2 linked regions of the Homo sapiens genome follow. The protein of the gene in region 1 interacts with the protein of each later gene in a pairwise test. Each region holds a gene or a part of one and is shown on either strand. Other genes may lie near its edges.

Region 1 (7,025 bases):
AACCTCTGTTTTTATTTTGTTGTCATGGAGATAGAGGCCCAGCAGTGGGAATTCTAGGGACACACCAGGGTGGTGCCCGGATGCCTGGGATCCATCTGGATGTATACAGAAGAAAGTCAAACTACTTTAGGTGTAAAGCGCCTGGCTCTGGGAATCACATGGCTTCTCTAGGAGCTTGCTAATTTAGCACCGGGGAGGAAGCAAAATCCTAGGGGCATGGAGCATCCACATGTCTTTTAAACAAAACGAAGTTAGAATTTTTACTAATGACATTCTTTTTATATGATTTCAGAAGATAAAAAAAATTCCAAATGCTTAAGATATACAACAGGGAAAAGGGAATTGTTTTTTATTTAATCTGAATTATAATTTTCCCATTAAAATCTATCCATATTAAGTGGGGGGCACAAAATAATACCAATTATTTTTTAAAGTTTCAGCTGTTCAGTTTCAGGATAGCTCTGAAAATACAATTTAGTTTGAAATTCAAGCTGTTTCATTTCCTATTAAATCTTGTAAATTTCCTTCCCCTACAATACTCAGGTTGGAAGGGTGCCAAATTAGACCAGGAACAAATTTTCACCAACTTCACTTCAATGCTTTATTTTTAGATGATATTAAAAACCTCATTAGGCTCCCTGAGGGAAAAGAGTGTTAACCACTAACAGAGGCAGGGGAAAAATAAAGGAAACAGAAAGATAAGCTAAATTGTTAACAAGGAAAGCTCCTCAGTTGGTCTGAGGATGCTGTACAAGCTAAAAGAAACTTATTACCAAGACCAGGTAAATGACTTGAGGTTGGAGCTTAATCTTTTACCCTCAGGCTAGTAAGGACTAGTCAGGTTTGTCAAAGTGGCATATGTCTTTATTATGATTTCCAGATGGGATCTGGTGGGAGGCGGGTGGGTAGAAGGGAAGGCAGAGAAACCTTTAAAGATTGTAAGCTAAGTGCTCTATACCTTTATACAATACCAATGTGCTTGAGTCTCCCGTTAAGAGGCTGAAAACTGGGCAGGCATACGCAAGACTGGGTGCGAGATTCAATGGAATGTCAAATGAAACTTAGAATTTATTAATGTATTTACATAATTTATAATCTTTAAGCAATGGCCCCATAAATATAGACTACAACTTTACATATGCTAAGCAATAGATACTTGCTTTTCCCCACCAAAATACTTGGGTTAAAAAAAAATTGACAGCATTTATACCACCTTCTTCACTTCCACTCTTCTTCCTTTTTAAACCATTGCTAGTCATTTTAGAACATATGAAATTCAGTTTATTCCGGGCAGCTTCTCTACCATCACCATCTTGATCATGAGAGCTTATTTAAAAAGGTGCCAATAACGTGTTTGGTGGCACACACATGACAAGGTCAGAAGCAAACCCAGGATGAGCTAGGCATCTGCTGCTATCATTGTTAATTTACTGTACGTATCCTAGGCTAACATGTTCAATGAAAAGTGCTTTAGAGATGGCAGAGATGAAATCATTTCCATCAGTCCTATAAATAACCCATTTTAGCTTCAGACAATAATTGTCCTCCCTACACTTAAACTATCCTACTATATGTTAAATGATACAACTCCCTCTAACAGTGGTAACAGAAACCAAGGAAATTATAATCTCCACAAGGTCTGTTTCTTTTCCCTTAAGAACCACAAAAGTGCTAATTTTCCCTTTACAAATGTTACATAAAATCTTGATTACAAAACTACTCAACAACTTAATCCTACCATCCATACAATTATATGTTCCTTTTCAGCAAGGTCAAAAGCCAACGATGTAGTCCCTTTGTACACTAGAGATTCTTTACATAATAGAAGTTCACAGACTGAAATATCATTGCTGCAGTCTTTGGAGAACAGAACTGGTCCATTTCTGTGAATCCTTTTTGCACGGAGAAGACTCAAGACTGGCTAGGTGAAAACTGGTGGCAGGGACCCCAGCCCTCCTGTTAACTTTCAGGACCACCTACTTCATCATCAAGTCTGAGAGGCTGAGGTTCGGTCAGCAGCAGCTCCGCTTTGGCTCTGAAGGCTGTCTTCGGAGTTTGAAGCCCTTACCGCCAGATGGCAGGTTGGCGTCAGTGGATGGAATTCTTCGACCTAAACCAAGATGAGAAAAGGGAAGGGAGTGAGCTTTAACTTTCTCAGACACAACAATTTTGCAGATGCAATTTGACAGGTTTCACTGAAGTAAAAAAAAAAAAAAAAAAGTTTAATAAACTTTTTATACTCGAATAATTTTAGATTTATAGAAAAGCTGCAAAGATGATAGAGCTCCTGTGTACCTCCCACCCAGTTTCCCCCAGTGCTGACATATTACCATGGGACATTTGTCAAAATGAAGAGTTCAACATTGCCACATCACTATTAACTCCAGACTTTTTTCAGATAGCATCAGTTTTTCTACATGTCCTGCTTCTGCCCCAGGATCCAAACAAGGATATCACACAGCACTTAGTAAACGTTTTTTAATTAAAAAAAGCCACACATCAAAAACATTTTGTTTTGAGTAGGTAATACATAGGATTTGTTTTTTAAAAAGTTCAGTCAGAACATGGTTGTCCCTCTGTCTCATGACAAGGCCACCACTGTGGCCCATTTCTCGTGTAGCCTTCCAGAGACATATATGCACAAACACTCAGGCACACCTATATCCCTACCCATCTCCCCTTTCCAAGGCCAAATGGGGCAAGAAATAAAGCAAACCATATGCACCATTCTCCACCTTGATACTTTCACTCAACACATCCTGGGGATTGTGGCATCATAGTACATGGAGAAAGAGCCGTCACCTTTTTTTTTTTTTTTTTGAGACAGGCTATCGGCTCTGTCACCTAGGCTGGAGTATAGTGGCATGATCTCGGCTCACTGCAACCTAAGCTTCCTAGGTTCAAGCGATTCTCCCACCTCAGCCTCCCGAGTAGCTGGGATTAGAGGCGTGTACCGCCACGCCCGGCTAATTTTTATATTTTTAGTAGAGACCAGGTTTCGCCATGTTGGCCAGGCTGGTCTTGAACTCCTGACCTCAAGCAATCTGCTTGCCTTAGCCTCCCAAAGTGCTGGGATTACTGATGTGAGCCACTGTGCCTGGCCTGCTGCCTTCTTTTTAACAGCTCTAAAATACTGCATTTGTAGATGTACCACCATTCATTTAACCATTTCTCTATTGATGGGTATTTAGTTTGTTTCCAATATTTTGATGTTATTAACAAAGATGCAAGAAGCATCTTTCTGAACTTACGAGTATGTGTGTAGGATTAATGCCCGGAGTGGAAGAGCTAGGTCACGGTATTCTACTCCTGGGTATTTGTCTGACACATACATTGTATTCCAGTGTCTATCTAGCACAAATGCAGGAAGAATGTGCAATTTAAATTTTGACAGATGCTGCCAAATTACTCTCTGAAGAGGCTGTGCCACTATATTCTCCTACCAACAATGCATGAGAATGAACAGGTTTCACTTCACTGCTCCGTGAAGCATAATGACAATTTCAAGAGAATCCTTAAATCACCCATCTACCTACCTGGCTGATAACTCAAGGGTTGCTTCTTGTACAAAGGCTTTCCTGACACCCTCCCACTTCCTTACTCTGTAACATCCCAGACACTACAATCAATCAGGACACCAGAAACAGGTTACTACACATATCTCATATCTGTTTACATGACTATCTCCCTCACATTAGACCCTAAGCTCTTCTAGGGAAGAGATCCTATTTGTCCATCTTTATGTTTCCAGTATCTTATCAGCACAATACCTGACACAGAAGTATTTTGTAAACATGGAATAAATGGACATGTACACCTTTTGACATTAACAAGGCTAAGATGGCCTCTCCGCTGACTCAGGTTCTCTCAAGCCTTGAGCCTCCACCACTTTGAGTTGTCTGCGGATCTGTGTGGGGAGTACACAGCATGGTTTCTACATTGAGAAAGTATCTCCCAATGTCTTCTAACTACTTTTCAAATGACTAGACACTGCTGTGAATATACTACAAATCTGTTTAAAAGCTTTACCCAAGCTTCTTGTCATTATTCTCAATAAATGGATATTGAAATATAGCTGGTATCTAAGAGACATCTGTGAAATATGACATCAAAAAATTGTTGAACAAATAATATTTTTAAAAGAAATAAGAGGAGAATATTTTCATGAGCTGGGAACAGGTAATGATTTCTAAAACAGCAACCAAAAACCTAATGCAGCTAAACATAAAGGAAAACAAGGATCAGTCAGATTATATGAAGATTAAAAACTTCAATCCATCGAAGGAGTTGACTAAAAAAATCAAAGGCAAGCCATACAGTAGAAGATACTTCCAATATACATAGTCAATAAGTGACTCATCTCCAAAATAAAGAACTATAAAACATTAAGAAGGAGGCAGGTAACCCAACAGGAAAACAGGCAAAAGACTTAACAGGCCCTTCACAAAGGAGGATATGTAGATACGACAAATGTAAACATATATTCGGAAATGTGCTCGACTTCATTAACTGTCATGAAAATGGAGATCACTGACTACCCACCAGAGACAGAAGGTGATCGGACTTCTCATACACTACCGGTATGGTTGTCAACTAGTACAACTACCACTTTGAAAACTGGTTGGCGGTAAAGCTGTACTGAATGCATGCATACTCAATGACAAGCATTTTTTCTTGTGGGTATAAATATACCTAACAAAAATGTGTACAGATGTTCACCAAAGAATACGATCAGAATGTTTAGAGCAGTACTGTTTGTAATAACTCTAAATTGGAAACAGCTACCCAAATGTCTATCAACAGCAGAATGGATAATTATATTGTGGGTATTCTTCACTGCCCCCTTACCCGCACAACTCGGACTCTGACACTCACACGCACAAACCAGCCATGAGAGTGGATCATTCACAGCTAGATGCAATGACATGGATGGTCTAAAAATGTAATGCAGAATGAAAGAAGCCAGACACACAAGAGGAAACAGAGTGTTTTTAAAAATATAAAGTACAAAATATATGTAAAACAAAACCAGATAAACCAATCTGAAGAATTAGTATCAGGATGGTTACCGTTGGGTGTAGGAACGGCCATGTCCCAACCAGAGTGCCAAGCACCGGAGTATATTCAGTTTGTGAAAATTCACTGAGCCTTATACTTCTGATACGTGCACATTTCTGTATGTCTATTATACTTCAATACAAAGTCAGTGTGCCAGGCACTGTGCTCACGCAGTTTTACTAAGCCAGTGAACAAGAAAGTCTATGTACATCTCTCCCAATTTTTCTAATCTTTGTGAACATATAGGTTTTGTTTTTCACAGTTAAATTGAATATGTACATACTAGTTTTTATATAAGACTTTTCATTGTTGGTATAGTTTACTATCTTCCTTTTTTTTTTTTTTTGAGATGGAGTCTTGCTCTTGTTGCCCAGGCTGGAGTGCAATGGCGTGATCTCGGCTCACTGCAATCTCCACCTCCCGGGTTCAAGCGAGTCTCCTGCCGCAGCCTCACAAGTAGCTGGGATTACAGGCATGCACCACCACGCCCAGCTAATTTTGTATTTTTAGTAGAGATGGGGGTTTCACCATGTTGGCCAGGCTGGTCTCGAACTCCTGACCTCAGGTGATCCACCCATGTTGGCTTCCCAAAGTGCTGGGATTATAGGTGTGAGCCACCATGTCTGGCCTACTTTCCTGTTTTTAATACCACTAAAGTGAAGAACACAAAAAGATAGCAGTAATTTTAACATACTCATGACACCACACACTTAGACATTTTAGCTTGAGCTGTGAAAAATTCCCAACTGGCTTTATGTTGCCTTTCAAAAATCCATCTGGGTACCTGCTATTTACATCCAGGACAACAATAAACATGATTTTTGTTTTTTTAAGAGACAGGGTTTTGCTCTGTCACCTAAGCTGAAGTGTAGCGGTGCAATCAATGGCTTACTGCAGCCTCAAATTCCTGGGCTCAAGCCATCCTCCCACCTCAGCTTCCCGAGTGGCTGGGACTACAGGTGCATGCCACAATGCCCTAGTATTTTGATTTTTATATTTTTTTAGACATAGGGTTATACTATGTTGCCTAAGGTGGTCTTAAACTCCTGACCTCAAGTGATCCTCCTGCCTCAGCCTCTGGAGTAGCTGGGATTATAGGTGACAACCACCATGCCCGGGCACATCATGACGTTTTAACACTGAAATGAACGGGCTGGCCTAGAGGGTGCAATCAGTAGTTCACTGGCCATATCTGGCAGCAGATGGGCTCCTTAGGCCTGCAAAGTACTCTGAAAATACTTAAATGATTGGCCAAATCTAAACAATGGGACATGTAAAAAAAAAATGTGAAAACAACCTCAGCAACCAGGGGCCCACATTCCAGTGTGGCCCCAGCTGATGGAGCTGGGCCTGGCCTGAGCTGGGGTTCCCAAGGCTTCACCTGGGCCTGCTCTGCTCATGGGTCAACCTTGCCTGGCCTTGGTGGGCTCTGGAGTTCATGCCCCTCCTCGACACAATGGCAAAGGACCCTCCCTGCTTCAGTACCCTTGGCTCTCAACCACATGGTGGATCTTAACGCTACATCCACCCTGCTCTGACGGCTTTCTGCTTTTCTCCACCTGGAAGTCTGACATGTTTATGTGACTCCCCACACCTCTACAGGGCCTGCTTCTTTGGACCTCAGCTCTGATAGCACCTCCTTAGGGAGACCTTCCCCAATTGCTTGCAGACATTCCTTCATTTCATCCTAAATTATTTTCTTTGTATCAGTTATTATGATCTGAAATGATCCTATTTATTTGGTGTTCACTGTCTGTTTCCCTCTGTAGAATGTGCGCTCCAGGAGAGCAGGGGCTGCGTCTATCTTCTTCACGGCTATTTCCCCTGAGCCTGGAACAGCTCCCAATAAATATTTTGATGAATTTGAATGAAATGAATAAACATAGATACGATCTGCAGAGGATCCCAAAGGCATGCAGCAGCCCCTCTCCCATCGAGTATCATCATATTAACACTTCTGGAAAGGG
Region 2 (7,182 bases), on another chromosome or scaffold:
CTTTCAAATAAAATTGCTCTTATCAAAGTCTCTTACCAAATTCACCGAATGACCTTCCTATTGGCAAATTTAAAGGTCAATTTCTGGTCTTTATTCTTACTTGATCTCTTAGCTGCATTTGACATTGTGGATCAATTCATTTTTGAAACCTTTTGTCCCCTGGCTTTTAGTATAGTAGTGCCTCCAAGTTTCCCATTCATAGGGCTTCTAGGGTGGTCTATTAGTCTCCTGATATTCCTCCTACACCATTAGCTGCTGGATCTTGCTTGGGCCTCAATCCACCAAGCTTTCCTCTTTCCTTTCTGTATTAGATTCCTAAGAAATCTCATCTACTCTTTTGGTTTAAATAACGTCCCCATGTTGGTGAACTCATGGATTTATACCTTCAGCCCCAGTCTCCTCCTAAACTTGAGTGGTATATACAAGTACCCACATGAAACCTCCACTTGATTGCCTAACGGGCATCTCAATCACAACAGCCTGAACAGCACTATTGATGCGCCACCACCAACAACCTGCTTCTCCCCAGGGTTTTCTGTCTCAGTAAATCACAGGACCATTTGCCCAATGGCTTTCCCACTTTCTCTCACATACTACATCCAGCATATCCTGTCAGTTCTACTTTCAAAATATGTTCAGACTTCAACTACCTCCCAACATTTCCATACCCTCGACTTTGACCTATATCTCTCAAATCTCTTGCTTGAAGGATTGCAAAAGCCTCTTCAGAACCCAGAGATAGTCTTTAAAAATGTAAATCAGACCCTGTCATTCAGTTGCTCATATTTACAGTGGCTTCCTGCCATATCAAGAGCAACACCCAAAGTCCTTCCCCATGGACTCAGCGTCCTCTGTGAGCCAGTGATTGGCATCTCTTCAACCTCATCTCCTCCCACTCTTTCCCGCCTCGCTGTCCTTAGCCACATTGGCCTTTCTGCTCCTCCTCAAAGAGGAGCAAGCCTCAGGGCCCTCACACTTGTTCTTTCCTTCGGGCTGGGCTTCCCTGATTCAATTCTCAGCTCAACAGTTGCACACCTCAAAGAATCCTTTCCACTTCCCATGATCCTCTATTCCTTTACTAAAGGTTATCATACACTTATCAACTTGTATTTGTTTCTTATTATTTCCTCCATTAGAATATAAACTCCATTAGGGCAAGGACTACTTTTTGCTTCAGCCTATATCCTCAGCTTCTAGAGAAGAGTCTAACACACAGTCGGTGCTACCTAGTGAATGATTAACGGCAAAAGCAGCATTGTGCTATCAAATGAAATGAGATTCATGAAAACATTTTTTAAACTCTGGAGTATCAATCATGTATAAGTTATAATAACACATTATAGTTTAGTAAGTATTTATCAAGCAACTGCTTTTGTGCTAGGTAATGTACTAGGCACTCTAATTACAGAAATAAATAAGACCAAGTTCCTACCCATTCTAGCTGGAAGGTTGGAGGTGGAAACAAAGAGAGGTAAGTGTTATTCTAGAATTATCTCGGCAAGTGCTACTGAAGCACACTCAAGGAAAGGAAAATGTATTCTGCTTGGGGGGACAGGAGTAAATGAAGACTTCATCAAAAAAGTCACATTAAACTGGGATTTGATGATTGTGGTTGGGTTTGTCAGACAAGAGGCAGGAGAAAGGGCTTGACTGGCAGAGGAAAGAATCTCAATGCGTGTGCCCTATCATGCAGTTTGCTAAGCATCTCCCAAAACAGCTGCCTTCTTCACTCCTGCCTTTCTCTCTTACTCCTGAAGCCCCAGGCCTTCTCTGACCTGGCCATCCTGGGTCCTTTTTTTGTGTCTCACTGTGTCCTTTTCCCCACTGGCCTTCAATGGGTCACAGGTTACACCTCCATATAATTCATCCTCTCTCTCTTCAGACATCACGACAACTCCAGACTGTCCATCTTTATACTTCCTGTCACCAACTTCACAGCTGACCAGGGATTTCAGAGACAGTGGGGTGGATTTCTAAAATCCACCTGCATAATAGTTTAATAGGAACAGATATATACTCTTTAATGAAACATTTTTAAATGTTCATGTTGACATAAAAATTCCTCTTATGTAGTTTCTCACAGATTATCAAAGGAGAGGATATTTGCCTTCAGAATTTAAATGAGAATCAAACAAGTGGGAGACAGTGCTTAACACTGAGCAGTCTATATTTAATACATGAATGAATGATTGGATGAATTAACAAATGAGATAAATTAAAACCATTTATGCATGTGTTGTATTTCCAGATCTACTTTTGTAACTTAGTTGTTTTGAATTTGGGATAGATTTTCCCATAGAAACAATGTTGTAAACAGTTCTTAAGTTCCAAGAAATCCCACTAAGGCTGTTTAGCCCATAATGTAGCAAGAAAATGCAGAAAAGTAATGGGATAGCTTAAACAATTTTTGAATGTTGAATACTAGTATTTGAAGAAAAGTAACTTTAATTAGAAGATGAGGTGGTACATGAAAAATGCTGTGATTCCCAAGGGGCTGTCTGAGCCCTTTCAAGGGTTCTGAGGGCACTAACTTCTTGTAATGCATATTTTCAAATTAAAATGTGCACATTTATTTCCCTGGGTATAATACTATCCTTGTACTGTTCTCGCAATCAGGATGAAGGAAGAGCATGAGTCTGGCCGTGAGGAATTAGATTTCAGTGAGAAGAGAGTCTGGGACACTGGATGAGGTAAAATGAACTGAATGGCAGGCGGTATAAAATAGAGGAAAGGGAAGAAATATGGTGTGAGCATGATTCCACCTATAGGGAAGACAAGAGTATGGTGGAGGCAAGAAAGAATAGGGAAGAAAGAATACTGTGGAGGAAAATATGGTAGATGGAGGCCATAAAATGGTTCAGGTCAGGTTGGCGCTGGCCAGACCAAGGGAATAATGGCCTTGGAGTTTTCAAGTGATCAGGCAGCATGCTACTATACTAGACTGTCAGAGGTGTCAGCAATGCAGATTGGGTCTTGATATACCTAAGAGGTCTCTGCAGAATGCAGAATTTATATATTACCATATCCCCTCTGTTGATTTTGGTGACACACATACTGCATGATTTTTTTTTTTTTTTTTGAGACGGAGTCTTGCTCTGTTGCCCAGGCTGGAGTGCAGTGGTGCCCTCTCGGCTCACTGAAACCTCTGCCTCCCGGGTTCAAGTGATTCTTCTGCCTCAGCCTCCCGAGTAGCTGGGATTACAGGCGCATGCCACCACGCCCGGCTAATTTTTGTATTTTTAGTAGAGACGGGGTTTCAGCATCTTGGCCAGACTGGTCTTGAACTCCTGACCTCGTGATCCACCCATCTCGGCCTCCCAAAGTGCTGGGATTACAGGCGTGAACCACCACGCCCGGCCAGTCTTATTAACTTCTAAAGAAGGAACTTCAGAAACCCTTGCCTTCCGTGTAAAAAGGTGTCACGTTCCACTTGCCAGTCTTCTTCCATCCCTCTCCCTTCCTTCTTTTCTTCCTCTGGCGTTTACTAACTGACCCTGGGCAGACCACTTATTTCTCTGGGTCCCATTTTCTCATCTCTAAATGACAACACTGGAACCTAGATTATCTAGCCCTTCCAATTCTAAACATTTGATTATGAAATTCTCCAAAATCACAAAACATAAACCAGGAGGACGAGACCTAATTATGACCACATCAAATAGCTGTGGTTTCCAAAGTGGTTATTTCTGATTATCACAGACGAGTCAGTTATCCAGCTTTTCTCCTCTTTTCTTTGTTCCCATAGCATAGGCGACCTCTTTGCTCTCAGAGCTGTTTCAGGGGCGTCGAAATTTATCTAGAAAAAGTGGTGTGGGAAGTGTGGGTTTTTCCTTCCATTAAAAGAAAAAATCTGTTCGCTCCTTCAACTCAAAAGGCTTTCTGGGTAGCCATAAGCAGATAAAACCTTATCTTTCTACCCTCGAGTTCCTCTTTTGGACTTCATATGCATTGACTTGACGGACCTTCAGCACAGAGAACAAACACCCGAAGGGTTCCCTCAGCAACGGGACTGGCACCCAGAGCCCCCCGCTCCCCGCGAGCCGGCGAGCGCAGGCGGAAGCGCGGGCGCCACATTTCCGGTGTCGGGACCGGAGCTCACCACACTTCCGGTTTCCCTGCCGGGCGCGCCACACTTCCTGTTGATCCGGCTCGGCCGGGGGCTGGGCCGGCGGGCAGGCGGCGGCGGCCACTGGCCAGGCGTGGACGCGCGCGGGGCCGCCGCGGGCACGGAGTGGCCGCCGCGTCGCCTGAGCCCAGAGCCGGGGAGTGCTCTCGGCCGCCGCGTCTCCTGCCCTCTGTCCTTCCAACCCAGCCCTCGGCTGAGCCGCGCCGCACCATGCCCGCCGTGGACAAGCTCCTGCTAGAGGAGGCGTTGCAGGACAGCCCCCAGGTACCTCCCGCCGCTCCGGTGCCCCTCGCCCGCAGGGGTGAGGCCGAGGAGGCCCCTCCAGCCCCGGAGTGGAGGCCGCGCCCCCGGCCGGGCAGCCGCGGGAGTGCGCCCGGCCCCCTCGCGGCGCCTCCCACCGGGTTCTCTCGGGCTGAGGAGGGGGCGGGCCGGGCCCTGAGTCCTGAGCCGGGGCAGAGCTGTGGAACAGGGGAGAGAGCCCCGCGGCCGGAGTCTTGATGTCGTGACCCCCCTGCAAGCTCAGCTGCAACTGAGTCTGCGAGATCTAAACTTTGATTCCATGTAGTAGCTGAGTGCCTCAGGAAAACCACCTTATTGTGCCTTAGTTTTGTCGTCTGTAAAATAGGAATAATAATTGTGCCTGCTTCATAGGGTTGTTAGGAGAAGTCAATGAGAAATACCTGTAAAGTTGTCAGCAGACAATGTCCGGTACAGATAATGAGTCAGTCTTATTACTGCTACTCCTAATGATGTGATGAGACTTGTGCCAGCCAGAATGAGAGGCAGAGGGCCTGGATCTCTTTTCCGGCGGTACCAGGCCTCCTTTTGGCACCGTTTTCCCATTAGTGAAGAGAAAAATACAGTACCTGCCCCATTTGTCGCACAAGGGAACTTCATTAGCACACTCGAGATGAGAGTCAAGTCCTTTGAGCTCTGCAGATGAAAACTGGTGTGTAAATATAGCAAATGAGTGCAGGATGACATTAGTTCATAATTCAGCACATCTTTCCCCAGGGGTCTTTTGTTCTCCTTTGTTTAACATTTCTCCAGCTTCGTACCTACACTCCTGGTTCAGCATCCCGGGTTTATTTAAATAAGTGCCTTTATTTCCTAGTGTCTCAACTCTTGAAAACTTAGAATAAGATTAACCTATTTTCGTTTCACACTTTCCCCTCTCTTTTGGGGTTCCTTCCCTTTTTCTTCTAAGTGAATAATACTTCCCAGGATGATCCTTGTATGGATTTACCTACATCGACAGTTCAGAATAAGTCCGAAGGGCTGTATGCATAGGTGTCTTTTGTTCATTTTTTGTGATCCTCCTAGTGTAGATAAGTAAGGAACTGGAAGCAAGCTGTGTGTGTGTTTTTTGTTTGTTTGTTTTGTTTTTTGGTAAGTTTGCATCCTCTGGACGACTTTTTCAAGGCCTCCCTTTTTTATATGGCTGTAGACTCCTGGCATTTTAATCAGACTAAAGCCCTTGGTAGAAGGCATTTTGTCCATGTTCATATCTGTTGTGTGGAATCTGAAGATAGCAATGTGAGATTTTAAATGATCACTTTGAACAAGGATCTCTGTTTGCCTTGCACTTATGGAAACTGAGGTGCACAGAAATATCCTGCTTTTCTAACCTACATGGTGATGCCTAAGCCAGGTTACAGTGATTATACTAACTGATTCTTGATGTTGTCCTCACAAACAGATCATATTCTTAATTTCCAGCTCTAACATAAAGGAATATACACTGTTTGTGAGTGGCTTAAAGGATTTGCCCAGCTGTGAGGAAGTAGACAGGACTGTAGAGCAAGTCAGGAGACCTGGGTTCTAATTCTGGCTCTCACGCTCACTTAGGATGTGATGTGGGTGAGTCTCTTCATCTCCACCCTGTAGCTGGCTCAGTTTCCTAATCTACAGAACATCTACAGAATGAGAGACAGGGAGGGAGCAGGTGATCTTCAAGGTGCTTTAGAGTTAACATTGTCATATCTACATGGTGTATAACTTTGAACTTGTATGTGGCAGAGGAGGTTTAGAGATATTATCATTCTTATTTAATATGTTCCTTTTAATATAGGAAGTTTATTTGTCATTGCTTTTGAGACTTGGCCATCACCCTTAAGAGGGCTCTTGATGGTGCTGTTGTGCAGAATGGAAGCTGACTTTAAGAAGGTCTTTAATGATCATCAGAGCATATTTATATACTACTCTCTTGTATGTGACCTGTGCCTAATGTAGCTTTACTCCCAAGGTGACTCCTAGACTTGGAACTGGAAGGAATCTAATCCATCCCCTTCATTTTATGTGCAAAGCATAAAAACAATAGCAAATGCCTGTTTCATGGATTTTATGTGCCAGGGACTCTTCTAAATGCTTTACATATATTAACTCACTCAATCCTCCCAATAGTCTTGAAGTACATTCTCTATTTAAATAACTAAGGAGCAGAGAAGTAATTTGCTTAGAATTATACACCATAAAGTGACAGAGCCAGGACTGGAACCCAGGCAACTTGCCTGTACTAGGGATATGGTTCAAGTTAGCCCAGCTATCTAGCACCGGGCTTTTCTGTCATCAGTGACCTAAAATGTTTCACTAAAAGGAAAAGATCCTAATAAACCATCTATTGTGTGTTTCTTCTAGTTTTATGAAGAGTAATTTTGAGAGTTGCTTCAGTAATGTGATTGCACAGGATGAATTAAATGAACACCAAAGCTTTTGTAATTGAACTGAGTGACCCAGGAAGAGCTGAATAGCAGTTAACTGACCTTAGACACATCTATTCATGGACTCCTTTTTAGTTTGCAGTGCTGCACGATGCATTGTAAAACTAGTCTGTGTGCATACACATGCGTTATTTCTGCTTACCTCTCATATGTGGGAAGCTGAACATTTTAGGGATTAAGAAATCTGCCTCCATTGTTGTTTAGAAGCCTCTGCTCCTTGCCTGGCACTACTGGCTGTTGGGAATGTGAAGATAAATAAGAGTGACTACCCTTGACTGGTTCACAGTTTGTTCCAGAGACAGATAATGAGGCAACAGTTCCAGTACAGTGTGAATC

Evidence for each region.
Region 2: the proteins of RAB22A (region 1) and APPL2 interact in binary tests that used the Homo sapiens proteins (3 or more experiments, as listed by UniProt).

Annotation. Positions count from the first base shown.
Region 1 is NC_000020.11:58,354,691-58,361,715, reverse strand, and holds part of RAB22A (ras-related protein Rab-22A), read right to left. Parts: intron 2,111-7,025; coding exon 2,013-2,110; 3' UTR 1-2,012. UniProt on the Homo sapiens protein: Plays a role in endocytosis and intracellular protein transport. Mediates trafficking of TF from early endosomes to recycling endosomes. Required for NGF-mediated endocytosis of NTRK1, and subsequent neurite outgrowth.
Region 2 is NC_000012.12:105,233,167-105,240,348, reverse strand, and holds the start of APPL2 (DCC-interacting protein 13-beta), read left to right. Parts: upstream 1-4,174; 5' UTR 4,175-4,336; coding exon 4,337-4,390; exon of another isoform or gene 4,391-7,182. UniProt on the Homo sapiens protein: Multifunctional adapter protein that binds to various membrane receptors, nuclear factors and signaling proteins to regulate many processes, such as cell proliferation, immune response, endosomal trafficking and cell metabolism.